Linked DNA regions of Homo sapiens. The protein of the gene in region 3 purifies or fractionates together with the protein of the main gene of each other region. This does not show direct contact. Each region holds a gene or a part of one and is shown on either strand. Other genes may lie near its edges. The genes, in order: CAD, SATB2, TBX19 and PTPN5.

The links.
Region 1: the proteins of TBX19 (region 3) and CAD purify together in Homo sapiens (affinity purification with mass spectrometry; one large-scale study listed by BioGRID and IntAct). This does not show direct contact.
Region 2: the proteins of TBX19 (region 3) and SATB2 purify together in Homo sapiens (affinity purification with mass spectrometry; one large-scale study listed by BioGRID and IntAct). This does not show direct contact.
Region 4: the proteins of TBX19 (region 3) and PTPN5 purify together in Homo sapiens (affinity purification with mass spectrometry; one large-scale study listed by BioGRID and IntAct). This does not show direct contact.

The regions. Positions count from the first base shown.
Region 1 is NC_000002.12:27,222,822-27,228,752, reverse strand, and holds part of CAD (multifunctional protein CAD), read right to left. Parts: intron 5,888-5,931; coding exon 5,716-5,887; intron 5,191-5,715; coding exon 5,005-5,190; intron 4,837-5,004; coding exon 4,724-4,836; intron 4,409-4,723; coding exon 4,263-4,408; intron 4,009-4,262; coding exon 3,877-4,008; intron 3,744-3,876; coding exon 3,510-3,743; intron 3,049-3,509; coding exon 2,827-3,048; intron 2,623-2,826; coding exon 2,434-2,622; intron 2,229-2,433; coding exon 2,104-2,228; intron 1,922-2,103; coding exon 1,791-1,921; intron 1-1,790. UniProt on the Homo sapiens protein: Multifunctional protein that encodes the first 3 enzymatic activities of the de novo pyrimidine pathway: carbamoylphosphate synthetase (CPSase; EC 6.3.5.5), aspartate transcarbamylase (ATCase; EC 2.1.3.2) and dihydroorotase (DHOase; EC 3.5.2.3).
Region 2 is NC_000002.12:199,449,935-199,455,865, forward strand, and holds part of SATB2 (DNA-binding protein SATB2), read right to left. Parts: intron 1-5,931. UniProt on the Homo sapiens protein: Binds to DNA, at nuclear matrix- or scaffold-associated regions. Thought to recognize the sugar-phosphate structure of double-stranded DNA.
Region 3 is NC_000001.11:168,310,878-168,316,358, reverse strand, and holds the end of TBX19 (T-box transcription factor TBX19), read right to left. Parts: intron 3,652-5,481; coding exon 3,357-3,651; 3' UTR 1,933-3,356; downstream 1-1,932. UniProt on the Homo sapiens protein: Transcriptional regulator involved in developmental processes. Can activate POMC gene expression and repress the alpha glycoprotein subunit and thyroid-stimulating hormone beta promoters.
Region 4 is NC_000011.10:18,780,130-18,786,060, forward strand, and holds part of PTPN5 (tyrosine-protein phosphatase non-receptor type 5), read right to left. Parts: intron 1-5,931. UniProt on the Homo sapiens protein: May regulate the activity of several effector molecules involved in synaptic plasticity and neuronal cell survival, including MAPKs, Src family kinases and NMDA receptors.

The DNA.
Region 1 (5,931 bases), on a different chromosome or scaffold from region 3:
AGGCGTGATGGCACATGCCTGTAATCCCAGTTACTCTGGAGGCTGAGACAGGAGAATCACTTGAACCCAGGAGGCAGAGATTGTGGTGAGCCGAGATCACACCATTGCACTCCAGCCTGGGCAACAAGAATGAAAATCCGTCTCAAACAAACAAACAAACAAAAAAGACAGGGTCTTAGCCTGGCACCCAGACTGGAATGCAGTGGTACAATCACAGCTCACTGCAACCTTGAACTCGTGGGCTCAAGCGATCCTCCCACCTGAGCTTTCCAAAGTGCTGGGATTAATTACAACCACCGTGCCTGGACTGGATATGATGTTTTCTGTTTTGGATAATCTCCTTAGGATAAATTTCCAGATATGTAGAGGCAATAGGTAACACAAATTTTATAGCCCTTGATGAGTACGAATAACTTTATAGAAGTCTGTGCTTCATAATACAAAGTTTAAGCAACCTTCTAAGAAGTGGGCATAAACAGAGTCTCATTTAACTAGATTTCTATTTACTAATGAGAGGAACCGTCTTTTCTCTAGGTTTGCTTATTGATTTCTTCTTCTGTAAAGTGTTGTTCATCTCCTCTGACTATTTACTCTAGGGGCTTAAGTATTTCTTACCAAGTGTATTTTTCTATTTACAATCCTAACATTTACATTTCTTTAAAAAAGTTTTAAAAACACTACGATGTTAACAGTAGTGTGACTGATTTTGTTCAATTTCTTTGTAACTGTGGTTGTAAGACTTTTTATTTTGAGATTTGTTAAAAAAGGAGAAGCCTAATACATGCATACACATATGCCTAGAAATGTATGCAGTCGTAGATACACGGCTGAATTATGCAGTCGCAGATACACGGTCGAATTAATCAATCTCTGTAAGGCAAGATTACAGGTGACTACTGTTCTTTGGTTAAACTATCTTTCCTCGTTTTCCATGATTCATGTTTCTTACTTGTATAATAAAAGTTACAAAAAGTTACCAAAGAAGACCACATTCCAAGAATACTTGAACAGATGTAAAACAATTAAATGTCTCATCTAGGAACCAATCTTTCATTGGCCTATTTTCAATCCACTTCTTTTTGCCACAATTTAATTATGGCTTCATTCCCATGTTTATTCTAATTTTCATATAACAGAGATTCATCTCCAGAAGGAAAAAATTGGCAGTCTTGCAGAATTTCTAAAAATTCTGAAATAATATCTGAGCTTAGACTTACTTGTTTAAAGGCCACTACTGCTCTAAATGGAAATCTGGAGCACCACAAAATGCTCTTATCCATCAGGCTGGTGGCGCTGTGTCTGGTACACGTATATTTTTGTTTTGGTTGAAATGTGTTAGAGGACGGTCTTCGGCAACTAAAGGGATACCACAAAGAAACATACTAACTCAATTCTAACATGCTCTGCCACTGCTGGGTAACGTTACGGCCATTCATCATTCACTAATAAATTTCCTTGTTACCAAAAAGGTTTATGATGCCCTGCTCTGATGTAAACATCATACTAAAAAAAAAGGTCATTTAGTGACCAAAGCACAAAGTGCCAGAGGAGGAGATACTGCAAAAATGAGATGAGATAGTCTGATGGCTTGCACCTATCCCAGAGATTCTGTATTCCAACACAGATTTCCAGATGCCTCCCCAACTCCTGACAAGGACTATAATCTTAGTTTGAAATGTCTCAAGCACCTGCTCCCATAGGACGTAAAAGGCCATGCCAGGGAACTCTTGACATTTAAGATTCTTGGTCATGGTGGGGCCCCATGGGGGTGCCCAGGGCATGAGTCTCACCAACGCTCTTCATGCAGCTCCCAATCTTTGTGCTGACTCGCAGGAACTTGCTAAGGTCCCATCGAGGAATCTTCACCACACAATAATCCACGCTGGGTTCAAAGGCTGCTGTACCCCCTGTCACAGAGTTCCTGGGGTCCAGCAGGTGGGATGCCAGAAGGACAGTGAAGGAAGCATAAAGGGTGAGCTTCCGGATAGCTCTTTCCATTCCCACAAATCCAGGCCAATGTCCTTTTCATATTCCCTGTCCCATCAATATTTTCCTCAGCCCCCGACCCACTTCCCCACTGTGATATCTCCCTCATCCTCGTACCTGAGCTCAGGCAAAGGGATGCCCAATGCTAGCTTGGCTGCCACATAAGCCAGTGGATAACCTGTGGCCTTACTGGCCAGGGCAGAGCTGCGAGAGAGCCTGGCATTCACTTCAATGATGTAATACTGCAAAGAAGGAGAATAAAGTCACTGGCCTAGAAGACCCTGTCTAGGAGAGGTCTCAGAAAGGAGAGAAAAGTAACCTAGTAAAGAAGATTCCAGCTTGTACTCCAGGGACTGTAAGCCCAAAAGACCTCAACCTCAAGGGCCAAAAATTATACAAGAAGAGGGGGTAACAACTAGACTATCAGTTCCAGGGCCTAGAGCTTACCTGCTCAGACTCAGGGTTCAAGGCATACTGCACATTGCACTCCCCAACAATTCCCAGGTGCTGGGTCACCTTGATAGCTGTCTGCCTCAGGAGCTGATACTCCCTGTCATTCAGTGTCTGGCTAGGGGCCACCACTATGGACTCACCAGTGTGGATGCCCAGTGGGTCCAAGTTCTCCATGTTACACACCTGTGAAGGGGGGTGCCATGGAGGTCACTGCCAAGCAGAGTCAGGAGAGGCAGAAGGCTGCACCCCAGGGTCCTGTTACCTCTGGGGCTGCACCTAACCTGGGTCTGAGGGACATACAACTCTCAAAGACCTTGGCCTGGGCCTCTGCTCTTCCAAAAGCTCATCCTGCCTGACACGACGCCCACCCTTCCCCCATTCACTCACCGTGACACAGTTGCCATAGGCGTCTCTCACCACCTCGTACTCAATCTCCTTCCATCCCTTCAGAGACTTGTCTACTAGCACTTGGCTGGTATGGGCAAAAGCTGGGGCCACGAGAGCAGAGAGCTCCTCCCTGTTAGAGGCAAAGCCAGAGCCCAGGCCACCCAGGGCAAAGGCTGCACGCACTAGCACAGGGTACCCCAGCCGTTCAGCGGCTGCCTGGGCCTGCAATGAGTGGAAGAGATGAACAAACAGGTTATTTCCTACTGTCCAAGGTGTGCCTGTCCCACATAAAAAAAGATATAAAGAAAATAACATGGCTGGGCATAGTGGCTCACGCCTGTAACCCCAGCAATTTGGGAGGCCGAGGGTCGGGGGGGTGGATCACCTGAGGTCAGGAGTTCGAGATCAGCCTGACCAACATGGAGAAACCCCGTCTCTACTAAAAATACAAAATTAGCTGGGCATGGTGGCGCATGCCAGTAATCCCAGCTACTCAGGAAGCTGAGGCAGGAGAGTCGCTTGAATCTGGGAGGTGGAGGTTATGATGAGCCGAGATCACGCCACTGTACTCCAGCCTGCGCAACAAGAGCGAAACTCCGTCTCAAAAAAAAAAAAAAAAAAAAGAAAATAACACTACCAAAAAAAACACCACCATTCTTCCTTTACCCAAACACCCCTCCAACCTGTTCAAGAGAATTTGCTGCCTCGCTCGGGGCCACATGCTCTCCGATCTCTGCCATTCTGGCAGCAAAGGCCCGTCGATCCTCGGTCAGCTCAATGGTCTCCACTGGTGTGCCCAGGACCCGGACCCCATACCGAGCCAGCACCCCGGCCTTGGTCAGCTCCACACCACAGTTCAGAGCAGTCTGGCCCCCAAAAGTCAGTAACACACCATCGGGGCGTTCATTACGTATCACCTGAGGATGGAGAGGGGAGTTACAGGCATCAGAACCTTGTGGGTAGAGAGGCAATCAAAGTTTAATAACCCACAGTGACCACTGGGCCCCCCTGCCCAGTCCTCTTTTCATTCCAGCCTTGCCCCAGTCATACCTGGGTTACATAATGAGGTGTTATGGGAAGAAAATAGACCTTGTCGGCCAGCCCCTGGGAGGTCTGCACTGTGGCAATATTGGGGTTGATCAGCAACGTCTGGATGTTTTCCTCCTTCAGGGCCTTAATTGCCTAAAAGGACAAGAATGGCATCTCAGCCTCTGCTGAAGAAGCAAAATTGCAAACAGCCTTAGAGTAGCATTCTCCTCTTCTTTCCCTCCCTGTACTCTTGGCCCCTAATAATTGACTTCTATTTCTTACTACATCTTTCTCTACATTCCCCAAATCTGGTTCATTTCCTCCCTGCAACCTTAGCCCTTCTCCTTAAGACCCTTTCCATTCTTGAGGGTCACACGCCCAGAAGGGTGGGGAGGAACATGCCTCACCTGAGAGCCCGAGTAGTCAAATTCTCCAGCTTGGCCAATGGAGAGGCCCCCTGAGCCCAGGATCAGAACCTTTCGTGGTGGTGGAAGTCCAGAGCCGGGAGTGGGAATCCCAGGGGGACAGAGGCGCTCAGTCAGCCGCTCTCTAACTGTGGAAGCAAAGAAGGTCGTAGAATGTTAGAGCTGAGCTGGACCCAAGAGGTCAACTGGATTAGCTCCCTCGCTTTCAGAAGAGTCCAGAGCAAATTATGCACCTCAGGAGGAGCAGAGGGAGGACCAGAACCCAGGACCCTGGAGTTCCTTTCAACAGAAGCTTAAACGGTATCTTGGGTTGGTTGCCACCCATCCCCAATACCCTTAACCTCCTAGACATCTAGGAGTTGCCCAGGGCATGTCCACCTTATGCCCATCCTGGAGCCAACCCTGTTCTTAGGTCCACAACCCAGTTCTACTCAGGATCTTACCTGTCTGGCCCCCAGGGTTCCCAGCTGTGGCCTCTTTCACAGTTTCCAGAAAGATATCGAAAAGCAGTTCCATATCTGAAGGGCCAGCTTGGTGCTCTGGGTGAAACTGGACACTATTGAAGAGATTGCATCATGAAAACCATCATGGTCCCTGGCATGACACTGGCAGCCTCGAGGTGGGTAGTGGGACAGGGGACTCGGATCCACTGCCGTGCTTTACTTTTCCATCATCAAGGCCCACAGGGCTTCAAATTTTCACAGACCCAGTCAACCAGGCTCACCTGAAGAAAGGCAAGCTGTTGTGCACAATGCCTTCATTGGAACCATCATTGGCGTTGGTGAAGAGAGGAGCCCAGTCTGCTGGCAGTGAGTCTGTCTCCACAGCAAACCCATGGTTCTGGGATGTCAGAAAGCAGCGCCCAGAGCCCACCAACAAGCAGGGCTGGTTATGGCCTCGGTTCCCATATCTGGAGGTAGAAGCATGCCGAGTCACAGGCCCTGCTCACCCTCTCTTCACTACTGAACCTACCCCAGCTCTCACCGATCTCCTGTTCTCAGTAGCCTCACTCCTGTTTCCTTTTTGTTTTTTTTTTTTTTTTGAGACGGAGTCTCCCTCTGTTTCCCGGGCTGGAGGGCAATGGCACGATCTCCGCTCACTGCAACCTCCACCTCCCAGGTTCAAGCGATTCTCCTGCCTCAGCCTCTGGAGTAGCTGGGATTACAGGCGCACGCCACCATGGCTGGCCAACTTTTGTATTTTTAGTAGAGACAGAGTTTCACCATGTTGGCCAGGCTGGTCTCGAACTCCTGACCTCCAGTGATCCGCCCACCTTGGCCTCCCAAAGTGCTGGGATTACAGGTGGGAGCCACCTCACCTGCAACCCCCCCGCTCCTATTTCAACACGAATAAACACCAACTCTCTTCTCATTCCTGAGACACCCCACCCCTCATGCCACAAGTATGGGCCCCTTCTGCTCCCCACAAGTCCCACCTCATCTTGTAAGTCTTGGCCCCAATGGCTAAGGCCAATAGCTGGTGTCCCAGGCAGATCCCAAAGACAGGTCGGGGATTAGGCTCAGATAAAACACGGCTCAGTGTGGATACGACACTGGGATAGGAGGCAGGGTCACCAGGCCCATTACTTAAGAAGAGACCCTCATACTCTGGAGTGGGCAGAAAAGATGACATCAAAATCAGTATTTCAATT
Region 2 (5,931 bases), on a different chromosome or scaffold from region 3:
GCAAACTCTTTTCTTCATTTTTTTGAGTTAAGCATAAAGGTCTCCTACTCGAAACCATTTTAGGTTATTTCTCTGTTTTTTCCAAAAAATAATGAGTTAAAATGTATGGGTTAGATCCAACATTTCACTGCTGTTCTTATTCTTGGGGAGTGGGGGAGACGGGGAACTTGCTGCCAAAGCTTCTGAAAAGAGACTTTGGGCTGCTAATTTTCCGTTCACAAAATCTAAATTCCCCTTATGCATTCTCACACAACTCATGAAATAATATGAAACAGTATTATATCACTGCAAATTGAGACATTTTTATCAAAATAAAGAGTGATGATGCCAACATTTCATTTGTCATTTCCCACTTGTCACTTTTCACTGACAAACTGTTACACATACAACTTTTGTCAAATGCTCCATCTTTAAATATGTTCCAAAATGCCATTGTATCTCAGTATTCATGTAAGGAAGATAGTAAAAATTACTATGTTACCATATATTAGTTATATAGGTTTTTTAAAAGCCTACTGATTAAACAATATAAAGAATTCTTTATTAATTTACATGCTATATAGGATAAAGTTTGGCTTTCTGAAATAAAACAATGTACATATTTTACACACCTAATGTGGGTTCTTAGTCATAAGAAACATTTTAATGGTGAGAAATTTTATTCCAACAGAAACCTAAAAAGCTTTAAAAGATAAGTATAACCCAAGAAAATAATACTATTTGGAATTCATCTAGCCCTGTAAATTTAACATGTCTTTTTAAATATATACACATATGCTGATTCTATAATAAATACTTTTTAAAAAGAAAGAAAAATAGGGGTTTTAAATTATAACCATCAAACTTCACTGCTTACTACTTTGTCAGATATACCAAATAATTACTGTAGTCTTTCCTGGAATAAAACTGATTTCCGTATACTTAAAATGACTCAAATTCATATTCTTAGCTATCTAATAAATGATGATTAGTCTGTTTTCCCTTCTCTACAGAGATAGATTGGTTAAAACAAAATTCAAGAAAGAAAAGAAGAATTCAAACAGGATATCTCATATGTACAGACTTTGCTGGTTACAACCCTCTGGGAAAGGATGATATTGCTTATTTTCTGCAGGGGTTAAAAAACAGATGCCTTAAGGGACATCTATGTAGTTCCAACACACACACACACACACACACACACACACACACACACACACTGCACTACAGATGATCTTGAGTATACAATGGTCAGTGGGTTTCTTCTGATGGAACATAAGGCTTCCAAAATTACTTGAAACATCAAATTATGCTCAGGACTTTGAGGGGCGGATACCCTATGTTCTGTTTAATGTGTATGTTCCACTGCATATATTTTTTTAACCAAGTATATCTTTATTTTAATAACAGGCCAAGAACTAAAAACACTTTAGAGAAGAGTTATTTTTCTACCTCAGCAAAACTACAGAGGACAGGCTAGATTGTTGGATGACCCCAAAGCCTAAGTTCATTCTATTTAAAAGATCTTAAAACCTTAAAAAAAAAAAAAAAAAGTGAGGAGGGAGAAATACAATCTTTTCTCTTTTGAAGTAATGTGTACTTCCTACAAATATTATGATATTCATCCTTGGGAATGGAGTTTTCTCCATTTTGCCCATGTTAACAATATATTTCTAAGTATTTTATAATCTCAATATATACCTATCTATACTTTCATATCTGCATTCCTTTCAAAAAGTTAAATGTCTCTCTACTGTTGCTGATATGGTGACTACACCTGACCCGAACTGCATTTCTTTTCATCTAAAAGGAAGTGTTCCACATGTAGACAATTAAACTAACTGTTGTTGTAGACAATGTTCAGCTTTAAATGAGGCCCTGACTAACAATCTTGATCACATTTGCTTCCCTATTTGAATACATCAGTGTGTACTGCATAATGATTTTTTTCCCCCTTGCAACAAGACAGTTATGTTCTTGAAAGGGCTGCCTGGTAGCACGAATAGGTCTACTTCAGGTAGACTAGTTATAAGATAACTTTAACAGACAGTATGCCAACAAAATTAAATTGTTATTTATAAAACATAAATTATTTTTCAGAAATAAGCAAGTTTTTTTAATAAAAAAAGCAAATCTCTCTAAAAGATATTTTCAATGTTTAAATATTTTTCCCTAAAATGTAGAACATTTAACACCAAAAAATCATAAAAATTCATAGGAAAATGAAAAATATCAAAAAGATTTCTGATGTTTAATGTCTCCTATCAGCAAATACACCATCTGGTATATTCAAGCGCTGTTCATTCAGTTTAAATAAAGCTGTCTGAAAGTTCTTCTTTAAGCCAAACATTAAAAAATGAAAATGCTTGTGTTAACAATGAATGAAGCACAATAATTTATTGCTATTAAAGCACAACTGGCCAGCACCTTTCAGCAGTCCAGGAGAAAAGCAGAATGCCTTGCTTCCTCTGGAAACTTGATTGGCATCACTTTCATTTTATGCTGTAAGTTGCATGGCTGAAGCATTCCATACAGCAGAACATTTTAGGTACTTATGCTAATAGTGGTAAAAAGGATCATCTGATTCTTATTTTCATCATCCTTAATAATCCCTTCTTTTCCTAAATCTTCAAATAGATCTGTAAGTTTTAATCAACAATTTCACAAATATAAATTTCCCCACCATTAATCATCCTTTTTCAAAATCCTTATGGAGTGAATTACTAGCTGAGAGGGGACGCCAATTCTAGTAAGTGAATGTTACCCAGCAGGGATATAAAGCTGTCAACACCATGGTGCTCTTGCTAGCTCTAAACTCTCTCCTAGCCTTCATATGTTTTTTAAAGAGATATTAGCCTTTTTTTTTTCCTAAGGACCGTCTGTAAAAGCTGACTGACATACACATCTGAGCACTTACATTTTATTACATACATGCTTTAAAACACACTGCTCAGATAAGAGTAAAAACATCCCAGAAAGTGTTGGAAAGACAAAGCAAAACATCTAGTTTCTAACAGTCTTCTAAAGCTAACCACATAGTAAACAATCCACTTTTAAGTCCCCTGTTAAAACACAACCTTAAAGACAGTGACAGTGTATCTACCCTCTCTTCTATTTAAATTGAGACACTAAAGTAATGCCCCTTCTTTTATGAATACTTAGTTCTCATCAAAAAACACAGTAAATTCCCTCTACCTAAATAAGTAGAGTAACAGCAGAATTTATTACTGCAACCAATGCATTCAGAAGTATATTTAAACTATATTTACCTCACTGCTTATCAAAAACAGTAAGATAAATTGCTATTTGATTTGACAACCAATTAACTTGATCTCCCTTATTTTTAAAAGAACAGCTTTTAAGAAAGAGGAACACTAAAGATTAACAAATATGTACTCCCAAATTTTTGGCTCCACTTTTAAGACAAATTTTATTGTATCCATCATTACACCATTGAAAAGACTGCAATATATCTGAAAACGGTAATAAATGATACAGAGCTATAAATACTTGTGTAGTTATCTATGCTTATTATATTGCTTTATAAAGAAAATTTAAACAAAAGAACATAGAATGGTAGAAATATAATCTACTTTATATTTACTCTATGTTCAAAAAAATCCTTTAATTATAAAAAAACTAACTAGAAATGTATTTTAAACATTTTTTAAAATTTAGAATGTGCATTTTTCAAAAGGCCTGGCTTTGCTCCAAACTGTATACATGGTTAACAGTTACAAAGAAACTATTAACATCTTAACATACATTTGGAAATTATATAAACTTAAACTCATAATTTTGTTAACATTCAATTAGAAACCTTTGTACTATCAAAATCTTATCTTCTAAGTTGTTATATTCTAAAGTTGTCTAAATTAATCTCTTTACACACTATTATGCTGTCTTTTTTAAAAAAATTTAAATTCCACTAAACAATTTTAACCAGTTTACTATCGTGTATTATAAACGATATGTATTGAGACAAAATAATGTCATCTTTATTTTCAATTTGGGAAGCAGCTAATAAGACCTCTGCTATTACTAAATTAAGTTAATCAAGAGAAAGTGTCTAAGGCAGCTGGTTGAAACAAATCTATTATTCTTCACCAAGATAATAATTTTAGTTTATATTAAACACATAAGGGCTCAAATGTGAACTATAGTCTCAGAAAATTTGAAAACCAACCACTATTTAACACTAAAGTTATCCCTGGTCAACAGAACAAGGCACTTTCTTTCATAGTTCAACATGATATAGAGGAGGGGAAAAAACTTGTTTTAGGGAAGCACGTTGTTAACAATTACATTCTAAAATGTTTACAGCTCCTTTCAATTTAGTGAATTTTATTAGATCTTCAGAAAGATACCAAAATTTTAAGTCCAAGCCTTTTCTGTCCACAAAGGCCACTTTGGAACACACTGTCTCCAAGGAGTTTCAGAACTTTTTCAAACATTTTCAGCACTTAGCATATCTCATAATTGGTACCATCATACTCTATGAATTTTTATTTCTTATATGCATATACTAACTGATTATGCCAAAAGTCTGACATTATTTGCTCCAGTATCAGGACAACAAATTAATAAACCTCTCTTTTAAAAAGTGGGTCACAGAACTGTTTTCTTTTGCTTCAATAAAGTATATTTTCAAGTCCCAAAAAGGGGAGATAAACAAGCCAGAATCCATCACCAAACTTTTTAACTCACAACATTGAAAGGATGAATACTTCTCAAGTGAGACGATTAATATGAAAGACTGAGACAAACCATCCTAAGTATTTACCATGAAGAAATAGAAATAGCAAAATAAGTAAAAAGAAAAAAATACGATTTTATAAAACGTATGTGTTCAACTCTTTAAGGAGGAATGAACATTTTTAGATGTAAGTAACTATTTTGAAATACACACAATAGACACTTACAACAAGGGGGTGGGAGCTTATCATTAAGGTTTGCCAAGGTTTTATATCATTTAAGACAAGTTAATATATTGAATATTAAATGGGCTACTGTTGAAATTATTAGAGAAAAAACGTTAGAGGCAAAAAAAATTAAACTAGTGATTTATGCCAAACACACAGAAAACCTGCATGCCATGTGGAATTGTGGATTTTACATGTAAAAGACAACTAAGCAAATGGCATACAAACTCCAAAATATTTCAATGTTTAAATTTCTCCCATATCTTTATTTTGTATGATTGCTTTTCCTGACCACTTTAAAAGAAAGTAGTTGCTTAAGTAGTAAAAACTACAAAAGATTTTCTTTAAATAAAATTATTAATAAATTCTTTGGAGGGGAAACTACATCTAGTTGATAAGGCTACTTTGCTATTTTTATCTGTTCTCCTATAATTCATAATAAAGTTACGAATGCATATGACTAAACTTTATAGACAACAGCAGCATTTAAGCTTCTAAGGGCCTGATGGATTCATGGTGATTCTTTATTTCCCACATTTCACGTGGCAGGAAATATTCCCAGTTGTCATTCATCTGTCTTGAAGCACTGTCCTCACTACAAAGTAACATCAACTCTCCTTGTTCCTGTACTCGCCTGAGCATTAATGACTATTTTATTCCCTAAAAGCGAACGCACGTGAACTTCATCCCTACAACAGACACTCCGAGGCAAGGCAAAAGAGTTAAATCACTAAAAAGCTCTCTAGGAAAATCTAGAAACAGTTAGCTGGCTGTGACATAAACCTGCCAACACCTCAGCACACAGTGGCAAAATGCCCAAAAAATGCCACCCTCTGGGTAAAACCACTTTCTTGTTTTAACTGGAGATGAAGCTACCAGTTGCAGATGAGAGGCGACGGGGGCATTATTTGGCAACCTGGAATTCACTTCCTGTAATCCTACACCGCGACAGCGCCTAATCAACCTGAACCCTGACACCCGGGCCATTATCACTGGGCCGCGGGCTGCGCGCCTCCCTGCTCCGGGCTGT
Region 3 (5,481 bases):
CAATAGGCCAGGCTTCAGGGAGAGTTAGAATCTCTACCATCTGGCTAAAAGTATTGCATAACTCTTCTATTCAGGTGGGATTTCAGTTTCTCTTAAATTTCATGAAATAGTCCAGAAAACCTGAAAGGCACCATTTTTGTTTTATAGTGAGTTGAGTAGAGAAGATACATGAGCAAGGAAATGGTATACAAAACTCCAAAGTTTGTCTAACACATTACAGAAGCTAATCTGTCACTTACTAAACTGACTTATGTAACTAGTGTTGTTTCTTCTGATCAGAAATTAGCCCTAGACTATTTAAAGAAAAAAATAGAAAGTGTCTCTGGCTAGATAGCTAACAGCAAATAGAGATCCTATTTGTGGAACCAGCTATCATGGTGTGTGTGTTTAAGAATCACAGCAGGTTCCAAGCTGAGTATCCTACAAGACGGAGAGACGTGATCACCCCAAACTCAGCTAATGCTCATGTTATCATGCTGCAGAGGACCCCATTCACCTGAGCAATATAAATGAAAATATAATGGAGGCTACGAGCTTCTTTCTGTTCTGTGTCCCTGGGCCAGGTCTTCTGTCTGCTCCAGGCTAGGGGAAGTGCAGGAAGGGTGAGACTCAAGGTGGGTTTTTATTCCCTAATTACACTTGCTGAGCTCTTGGTACAGGACATGTGAAGGACTTGGTGCCAAGACTTGCTGCAGTGACCAGTAAAGAGGCCTTGGTCAGACCTGCTGTGGCAATTACAGGCCACAGTAGCCTAAAGTTCTAGCAGATTGAGAAATGACCATCTGTTATAACTTACCAAAGTACTGTCTTGCAGAGATACTAATATATTAATACCTTAGTGACCTCTAATGGTATTGTAAAGGGACTGGGAAACAGGAACAATGCTGCCTTAGGGGCATGCTGACCAGACAGCTTTCCAAATGCATGGATCCATTGTGCCTTGGCCACTCACACGCCAACTAGTGGCCCAGAGCGCTGGCCAGGCAACCTGAAGTCAGGCAATGAGTCTTCCCTGGACACCACGTAGCTGGAGTAGTATTGTTTCCTGAGATCCAAAAAACAGAACAGCACAGAAATATTGGGCAGTGACACCAGTTGTGACACCATAGCATGTTAAAGGACCTTTCGCTATAGAAAGAGCCAAGGACTCAATAGTACCATGTTTGGACCCCTCAGACTAAGCCTTGGAGTGGGCTGGGTTTGCACGGGTTCAGCTGATGGAATAGTGGTGGAAGCAGCTGAGCCAATGCTAGGCTCCAAGTGGAACTTTAGACTCCTCAAGTGGCGGCCCTGAGAAGGGCTGCTCAGCCAGTGCAGTCTAAAGTCAATGTTTGGAGAACTGCTCATCACCCAGGTCTGGAAACCTCACTCCCAAGGTTATTAGCACATCCAGTAGTAGGTAGAAAAAGAGGAGGAAGACTCACGAAACTGATTCTGCTCACGGGTTATAGCAATGACCTTGGCTGGGGCAGAGGTAAAAACTCATCTGAAATAAGGTTCCTGGAGTATTTATCATCCTGTTTCTCTCTTCTAGGCAAGGAGTTTCCAAACCTAGCCCAGGGCCAATGCCTGGAGCTCTTGTTTGAAATGCAGATTCCTGAACGCCAGCCCCAAAGATTCTGATCCAACAGGTACGGGGTATACCCACGAATCTGTATGTCTAGCAAGGGTCCCCTGTTCCAGGTGATCCTGACTTAGGGGATCCAAGAACCAGTATTTGGGAATAACCACTCTAACACACCCTGTCTCCATATATGATTGTCATTCACTGACAATTGGTGGTGCCTCAGATGAGAAGCCCGTGTAACTAACAGCCAGCATGTTCCTAGGCTCCCACACGGATGCACCTATGTGTCATGGGGCATGTGTCTCTGAGATCTGCCCCCCAGCCACTTCACACCGTCCTTGTAGCACACATGCACATTACACCAATTCAGTTCAGCAAATGTTTATTGGGCACCTACAATAGGCAAGGCACAGTACCAGCTGCTGTGGGTTACAAAGACAAGAAGGCTAGGCCTCACCCTCGAGAGGCTTACAGTCTAATAGGGAGAGACACACTCACAGGTAACAAAAATACAAGGCAAAATGAGGTGAGCTCTATGGCAGAGGCAAAAACAACGGGAGAACAGCGAGCAGAGATAGATCAGACATATCTCAGCAGATCAGATGTTGGATGCAGGGAGTGACGTTTCAGCCAGGCTCTGGGAGGTGGGTCGGATTCGCACAGGTGAACTGGAAAAAAGAGGACACTAAGGCACAGGCAAGGTATAGAGGTGGGAAAGTGCAATGAATGTTCAGAGAACAGAGATGCCTGCCTTGACCAATACATAGGAGGCCAACAGGATAACAGAGGGACCTAAGCTGGGGAAGTGGTTTCAGGCCAGATGGTGTGATCGCTCGTAGTAGGATTTCTTTCTTTCTTTCTTTCTTTCTTTTTTTTCAAATGAAACAAAGCCTTGATCTACCACCCAGGCTGGAGTGCAATGCCACAATCATAATTCACTGCAGCCTCAACCTCCTGAGATCAAGCGATCCTCCTCTAAGTAGTTGGGACTATAGGCACAGGCCACCATGCCCAGCTAATTTTGTGTGCATGACTATTTTTTGTAGAGACAGGCTCTCACTTTGTTGCACAAGCTGGTCTCGAACTCCTGACCTCAAGCGATCCTCTTACCTTGGCCTCCAAAAGGGCTGAGATTATAGGCTTAAACTACCACACCCAGTTATAGTGAGGAGAATTGACTTCATTCCACTGGTAATGGTGAACCATTGAAGGTTTCTGAGCAGAGGAGTGACATGACTTCATTTCCACAAGTCTGGGCACACTGCTGTTTGTAATACATGATTAGCTTTATTCTTTTTGTTAACCTTACTCTATGGCTTACACCCCATCCTGGTCTCAAAGCAGAAGTGTGAACCTGAGCCCTGTGGCCACACATACTTTCCAGGCTTCACAAAGCAGGAAGCAGTGGCCTTAGCTAGGTAAACTCTGAGCTCATTTAACAGCTTTGCACCTTCTCCACAGAAAAGGAAGTGAGGCTTTCCAGAACGATTTGAGAATAAGAGGCAGGGCACAAGGATGGTACTTAACAAACTTCTGTCACCTAAGCATGGCAAGAATAAGCTGCAGAGAAAATGGGAGTGCAGAAGAAAATGGTGGAGAGATGCAAATGATCTAACTAGCATCATCCAAACTGAACCCTCTCCCAGTATGACTTCTGTAATAACCCACCTCCACCTCCAGCTAGTGGGAAGGGAGATTCCACAGTCTGACTCACTAGATCAGTTGATGGGGTTTCTAAGCACTCTACACATGGAAGGATCGCTGTGCAAAGAGGCTCCTAGGATCCTGCTTAACCATCCAGTGAGGAAGGAGAATGGTGCCCACCCGCTCCTGGGCCACCCCAGCCCGCGAAGGGATGCGAGGCCACTGCTGTCCAGGTGGACACAGCAATGCTGGTTAGCGAGGGCTCCCCCAGAACCTCCACACCAGCCGAAGTGGGTGCTTGGGTGGAGAGCACAGAAGGGGGTGAAGTCACAGCTGGGTTTCCGAGGAGAAATGCTCCTGGGGTGCTGGCGTGCACCTCCGGGCCTGGCCCACTGGGGCCTCCGGCACCATTGCTGATGGTCCACAGGCACGGGTAGGGGCTGCAGAGACAGAGAAAGAGGGGAAGGGAATGTTCACTGGCACTCCAAGGAAGGAGTGCCACCTGACAAGCATGTACACAGTGCTGAGAAGGGCATGGTTACAGGAGGGCTTCTGGCCATGGCTTTATTTCTAGCTATGACGCAGATTGGTCCTGTTTCTGCAGAAAAGCTAAGAGAAGCAGCAAAGTATGGTGGAATAATGATAAGATTAAGTATTCTGGTACTGGCCCGGCCACCAGCGAATTATTTGGTTTTAGACACAGAATTTCATTTATCTGGGCTCCCTTGCAGCCTATGTAAAATTGGCAGGGCAGTAGAAAAAAAGGTATTAAAACTGTATGATTTCTGCATATGATCTCTCCCTGGCCAATGTGGCATAATAACCAGGAAACATCACTGTCAGAAGACTTAAGTTTAAATCCCAGCTCTACCACTTAATTAGCTCTGTGGCCTTGGCTAGATTATTTAATATCTCTGAGTGTCAATTTCTCATCTTCAAGATGTGGATTCATAATTTTACCTACCTTACAGAGATTGCTACAAGGATTAAATAAGAGGAGTATATGGTCCTTAGCATGTAGTACTCAGTAAATGGTGGTTGTTAACATTAATTCTTCCATTCCTGGTCTCCGCCTGTGAGCTCTGGTGCCTGGCTGAAAGGCTGGGAGCTACAACATTTTCTTTGCCTTCTCTAGTTCTGTAGCACAGGTTCACACACTTGATTGCACATTCGGCACATTGGAATCACTAGGGGGGGTTTTTAAAGTAATATTGGTGCCTGGATCCCACTCTCACCCCACTCCCCTGCCCCAGAGATTCTGATTGAACTGATCTGGCATGCAGCCTGAGTACGAGGATTTTTTTAAGTTTCCCAGGTGACTGTAATGTACAGCCAAGCTTGCACCTTAATATAGATGCAGTTGGAACAGGTGCAATGAACCCAATGTTTTCGGCCTGTAGTCATCACTATGTTTCTTACATTTTAGAGTTTCTGCATTGCCCAACACTGTATTGCTTGATAATATGCTTATTATCCAATGGCAATATTGAATACATTTGTTTTGTTTTGTTTCTAACAAAATATTTATGGAGTCAGGAATGAGTTAAACACACCAACAGGGAAGCCAGAGTTGGCAATGCCATCCTTCACCTGGTGCCATTTTTCAATGCTACAGGCCTCTTTGGACCATATGAAACCTTCAGCAGCCCATCCTCTGAGCTCTCTCTGAGCTAGCTCAGCTTATGGGGATTCTGGCCCCAATCTTCAGAAGATGCTCTTCTACATTATCTCTTACAGACCCTTTCTGATGCCTCCTGGGCCAGTGGGAGAACCATGGGCTCTGAGAGGTACTGCTTACTGCAGAACCTTCAGGAAGTTTTTAAGGCCTCTGAGCTTCAGTTTCTTCATCAGCAAAATAGGAATTTTAATACCTGCCTTATAGTTGTCTTTGAGTACTACAGATGACTTATATATGGATGACTTATATATATGTAAGTATCTAGTATACAACTTGGCACATGATTGTTTAATATCTTCAGGGAACCTCATCTTCACTCTCTTTCTCACTTCCTACCACAGCCCAAATCAATGTTTTTCCCTCAGATCCTCTAGATCAGTGTCAAATGCAAATGATCCTCTAGATCAGCGTCAAAATGCAAACCATAAATGCCAACTACATGTGTAAGTTTAAATTTTCTAGTAGCCACATTTAGAAAAAAATTAATTTATTAATATTTTATTTAACAAAAATATTCAAAATATTATTTCAACATGCATTTGATGTAAATATATATATTTATATGTATATATTTACATCATAATATTTACAT
Region 4 (5,931 bases), on a different chromosome or scaffold from region 3:
TTTCCTCAGGCTCTGTCAGGTGTTCCTGGAGCTAATGAGAACAATGCAGGTGACAGCAGCTGGAGGATGAGAGGGGTCTTCCCAGCAGAACCTCCTCTGCCCTCTGGAGAGCTCCAGGCTGTTTCCAGGTCCCCAAGTCAGACCCAGAGCCCTAGGAAAGGGCGGGTAAAAGAACTGGAAACTCCACTTCACAGGATTTCCCAAATCCTCCTCTGCCATGACATCCGCCTGCCCCAGCCATGCTCCCTCCTGCTTTTCTGCCTTAGTCTCTCAGCTCCTAGAGCGGCCCCTAGCTCCTGCCACACCCTGCTGTGGGCTCCAGCTTCTCATCAGGGCCCCTGCCCCCCGCCTAATTTAACCCTTCTGCACTCAGGCCTGGCCAGGAAAGGCCTTCCTGCTCCTCCTCTTTGTGCTGTGGTTTCCAGCCCTTCCAAGGCCCACCTCAGCCCAGGTCTCCTCCAGGAAACCTCCCTAGTGAGTCTAGGGTGTGTTGACCTCTCCTCTGGCTCAATCCTTCCCCCAGCACTTTTTGTGACTTGGAAACTGGTAATGAGCCACACCCTGTCCCGGGCTGCTCCCTGGCTCTCTTGTCCATAACTTTGGCTTCTGTAAACTTCCCAGGCTGACAAGGGGCAAGGGATAAAACCCCCTCTTTATCCCCCACGACAGAAAGCCCAGTGCAGAGGAGAAAAAAACATGGAAGGCAGGTCCAGCTCTTTCCTTTACACTCAGATTTGGAAGGAAGATGGGAAGGAAAGACCAAGTGGGAGAAAAAGAAGAAAGACATGAGTGGAAAGGAGTGAAGGAAGAGGGAAGGGCTGCTGCATGACACTCAGTACCAGGGTCATGAGAGGACAGATCAGGCCCACGATCCAGGTGGCCTTGAATCATGCTTTAGGGCTCTCACACTCTGATTATGCAACTCCTAGGCTTGACACAGAGACCTCTTTGAAAACCTTTGGAACTCACCTCCTCCAGGCAGCCTTCTGAGATTGACTCTGATCTTTGCCGCACCCCCCCGGCCCCGCCCCGGCCCCCTTGACTCCCTGAGCTGCGCTACTTTGCACTCATCCATGCCACTTCCCATGATGCTAGGTCCTCTGGGGAAGGGATGGAGGTCTCTGCCTCACTGGCAGGAAGTCAGTTTACATTTATCATCTGTAGCCAGAGATCAGACTGTCTTTTTTTGACCACTTTTTTTTTTTTTTGAGATGGAGTCTTCCTCTGTCACCCAGGCTGGAGCGCAGCGGCGCGATCTAGGCTCACTGCAGCCTCCGCCTCCCGGGTTTAATCAATTCTCCTGCCTCAGCCTCCCAAGTAGCTGGGACTACAGGAGCCTGCCACCACACCTGGCTAGTTTCTGTATTTTTAGTAGAGATGGGGTTTCACCATATTGGCTAGGGTGGTGTCAAACTCCTGACCTCAAGTGATCCACCCGCCTCGGCCTGGTGCTGGGATTACAGCCATGAGCCACCATGCCCAGCTCCAACTTTATTAGCTCCAGGGGGTGGTTCAGAATATATTTTGTATTTTAAACCCAGTTTGTCTCTAAGATAATCTTACTATAATCTTATATCAATTTCTTTAATATCAGGCTCTGTACTGAGCCTTGGGGGACACACAGATAACTAAGAGCCAGTCCCTGCCCTCCACCCAGCATTCGGCCTAGTGAGTTGAGTGAGAAATGCATTAAAGGCCCACTGAGGCTGTCTTATGGGAGCACTCAGGAGGGCACAAAAACAGAGTCTGGGAAGCTGCACAGAAGAGACCCGAAGGACAAGCAGGAGTTCACCAGATACAGGGAGGACATTCCAGGCAGGGAACACTGCAGGGCAAAGGCCCGGAGAGGTGAAAGCACAAGGTATGCCAGGCAGACGAGGCAGCTCAGTGTAGCCACAGAGTAGACGTAAGAGGGACTCTTGTCACACAGCAGACGGCTTCATGAATCAGCCTAAGACACACTAACTTTGACTCACAGGCCATTTTTTCTCAGGGGGACAGAGGCAGGTATTGCCATGCTAGTTGGCATTTAGAAATCTGTGTGTGTATTGGGGGTTAGTGGGGAAAACGTGACAACGTGGATGGATCTCAAAAACTATGTCTTTTTTTTTTTTTGGAGATGGAGTCTCGTTCTGTCACCCAGGCTTGAGTGCAGTGGCATGATCTTGGCTCACTGCAACCTCCACCTCCCAGGTTCCAGGGATTCTCCTGCCTCAGCCTCCCGAGTAGCTGGGACTACAGGTGTGTACCACCATGCCCAGCTAATTTTTGTATTTTTAGTAGAGATGGGATTTCACCATGTTGGCTAGGCTGGTCTCGAACTCCTGACCTCAGATGATCCACCCGTCTTGGCCTTCCAAAGTGCTGGGGTTACAGGTATGAGCCACTGCGTCTGGCTTCTTAAAAACTATTTCATGACACAAAAGAGCATGTACTATATGATTCCACTTATATGACGATTAGGAACAGACAAAATCCATCTACAATGATAGAAATTGGAATAATCGTTATCTCTGAACTTTTGCGGGTGATGGAAATCTTCTGAGTCTTGCTCTTGGTGATGGTTATATGAGCTCATGCAGTTGTCAAAATGCACTGAACAGAACACTTAAGATCTATACATTGGACTGCTTGTAAAGTAAACCTGAAGAACATGTGTGAGCATTTTTGGTTGTTATAATGACTGAAGGGTGCTCCAGGCAAATATATAGGAGATGGGGCCAGGGATGCTTTTACATCAAAGAACTCTCCCACCCAAAGGCCAGTAGGTCCCTGTTGAGAAATACGGCTGCAAGCTATGGGGAGCCACAGAAGGATGGAAACACCAGAGACTTGGCCACATCTGTACTTTGGTAAGACAGGGCTCTGTGGTGGTGGGAGTATCTTGGGACAGTGATGTGGCACAGAAGGTGGATATATGATTTTCACTGCCACTCCTAGGCCTCGTATTTGCCTAACTCTTAGCCCACTGGCCTGATGCTGCCCCGAAGGGGCCCCAGGAGGTCCCTCTGAGGTACCTCAGATGCTGACCAGCTAGGGAAGTAGCAGAGGCAGCAGATGGCAGTGGGAAATGGCAATGCCTCACCCCCAGCCTCCCTGCCTCATGATAAGCAGCAAGGATGATAGAAGTGATCATCTTCCTCTGAAGTGGAGTCTCAGTGAAGGGGTCTCCCTGAGTGTCTAGAGTCCCTGGAAGCAGGGCTGAACGCTACTGCTGCTACTATAGGAAAGCACTGTTTTACATCATGGGCTAAAGAAGAACACAGCTGACTTGCGTGAAAATACTCACCTGACCCCTGCCTTCGGAAAGCCTTCTCTGACCTCCGTCCTGGGCAGGTGTCTCTCCTGTGTTCCCACAGCCCTACAGAGCACAGTTACTGCCTAGGTTTAAATTCTGGCTCTGACTCTTGCTGTGCGTACCTGAAATAGAGTTACTCAAGCTCTCTGTTTCCTCACCTGCAAATTGAGGATAACAGAAACCGTCTTCACTGAACTGTCACCAAGATTGAGATAATGTAGTAAGCACTCAGTAAGAGTGAGTGCTTATGATGAGCCTAGAATGCATCAGTACAGACCACTGTTGCCAGGTGACTCCTCTGGCACCTCCACTAGACATTAAGCTCCTTGCGGGCAGGGTCCTTGTGGTCGTGTTGATTGCTGAGGGCCTTGTGTCCACCACAGTGCCTGGTACAGTAAATACTTGCATGCTTGAATCAATTCCACCCACTAAGATCTCTCCTGAGAGCTTTCTTTTTCCACCCACAATGCCTCTAAATCACAACAATTCTTCAGAAACGGAGTCAGACTCATTTGTATTCTGTTCCCTCTTCTCTCTTCTCTGTTACCTCCATGGCCATGCAGAACCCAAACAACATTTAGTTTTTAAATTAACAGCTTCTTCCTGGACTCTCTATTCCTAAGACTTCACTCAGTGGTCTTCATACTGGGCACACAAAAATCCTTTTTAAAAAATGCACCCTGCACCTCTCAAAAAGTGAAACACAGAATGATCATACGATCCAGCAATTCCACTGCGAGGTATATACCCCAAAGAATTGAAAGCGGGGGCTCAAACAGATCCTGGCACACCAATGTTCATAGCCGTATTATTCACAATAGCCAAAAGGTGGAAACAGATGAATGGCCAAACAATGTGGTATATCCATACAATGGAATATATTCAGCTTTGAAAATAAATGAGATTCTGATATATGATACCACAGAGACGACCCTTGAAAACATTAGGCTAAGTGAAAGAAGCCAGACAAAAAAAGACAAACATGATGCCACTTACACGAGGCACCTAGAATAGGTGAATTTATGGAGACAGAAAGTAGAACGGAGGTCACCAGAGGCTGGGGGAGATGGGAATGAGGAATTAGTATTTAATGAGTACAGCGATTCAGTCTGGGAAGATAAAAAGATTCTGGAGATGGACAGTGGTGATGGTTGTATAACACTGTAAATATACTTAACGCCACAAAATTATACAGTTAACATTGGTTAAAATGGTAAATTTCGTGTTATGTGTATTTTACCACAATTTAATAAAAGCCTCCCACACCAAACAAACAAAACACTGGAAGGACAGACTTCCCTCTGAAATCTGACAGAGCTGCATGTCCCTCTGCCACCCCTAGGGCTCTGTGACCTTGACCCCCTGGCCCATGATCTATCTTCCTCTCCATCCTCTCCTTGGTTCCAACTCTTGGGTTCCCTGTTCTTTTTCTTTTTTTCTTTTTGAGACAGGGTCTCACTCTGTCACCCAGGCTGGAGTGCAGCGGCGCTATCTTGGCTCACTGCAACCTCTGCCTCCTGGGTTCAAGCAATTCTCATGCCTCAGCCTCCTGAGTAGGAGGGGCTGCAGGTGTGCGCCACCATGCCTGGCTAATTTTTATATTTTTACTAGGGACAGAGTTTCACCGTGTTGGCCAGGCTGGTCTCAAACTCCTGACCCCAAATGATCCCCTGCCTCAGCCTCCCAAAGTGCTGGGATTACAGGCATGAGCCACTGCACCAAGCTCCCTGTTCTTTTTCTACTCCAGACGCCAGGGCCACGACATGTTCTTTTCCTTGCACCCCTCTTTAACCACCTTGATCCCATCATATCTCTTGAGGGTGCTTCAGATGGATGCTTTGAGACTCTGAGATGGAAAAGCTATGTGCCTGGAGATGCTCATTATTGACTATGTGCAACAATAAAGACATAGTTAAATAAAGCAGGGGTCAGCCAACCAAGTATAAACAGAGAAGTCATGACAAAATGTTAAGTGAAAAATGCAGGCTATAAACCTATATGTGGACTAATTTCAACTATTACAAAATACAGATTTACAGAAAACATAGAATAGGGCATATAAAATGATGGTTCATCTTACGTTTGTTCTCTAGCATGGAGTATGGTTATTTTCACAACTGTAATTTATAATTTATACCAGACAACATCTTTAGGCAGATGATGAAATACACACATTGTTAGTTTTGCAAGAATCTTCAGAATTGATTCCAGATGCCCATATGCTGCCACCATTGAGGCCCACAAATCCCTCCCGAAAGGCTTGCAGAGGAATGGGAGGCGAGGGGCTGTTTCATGTCGACTCTTCAGAAAGACACTTCAGGACTTGGTGTGTCTCTCTAATGACTCCAACCAACTACCTCACCACAAAAAAGGAGGGCAATTTAGGGTCTTTATTTTGCTACTGGACTAACCAGGAAATTTGGCTGTGAACAGTTTATCCCTTACATTAGCCCAAAGTTAGGAATTCCCATGATGCTTGTTCCCTTACAAATCTGCAAACAGTGGATCTCCCGCATCTGGTGTGAGGGGATCCCCTCCCCATCCAACATGCTACACCCCAGGTATAGAAACTTGAGTCACGCTTGCTTCAATGGGGACAAAGGAAGGAGGGTGGCTTCTGTTCCATGTGCTGC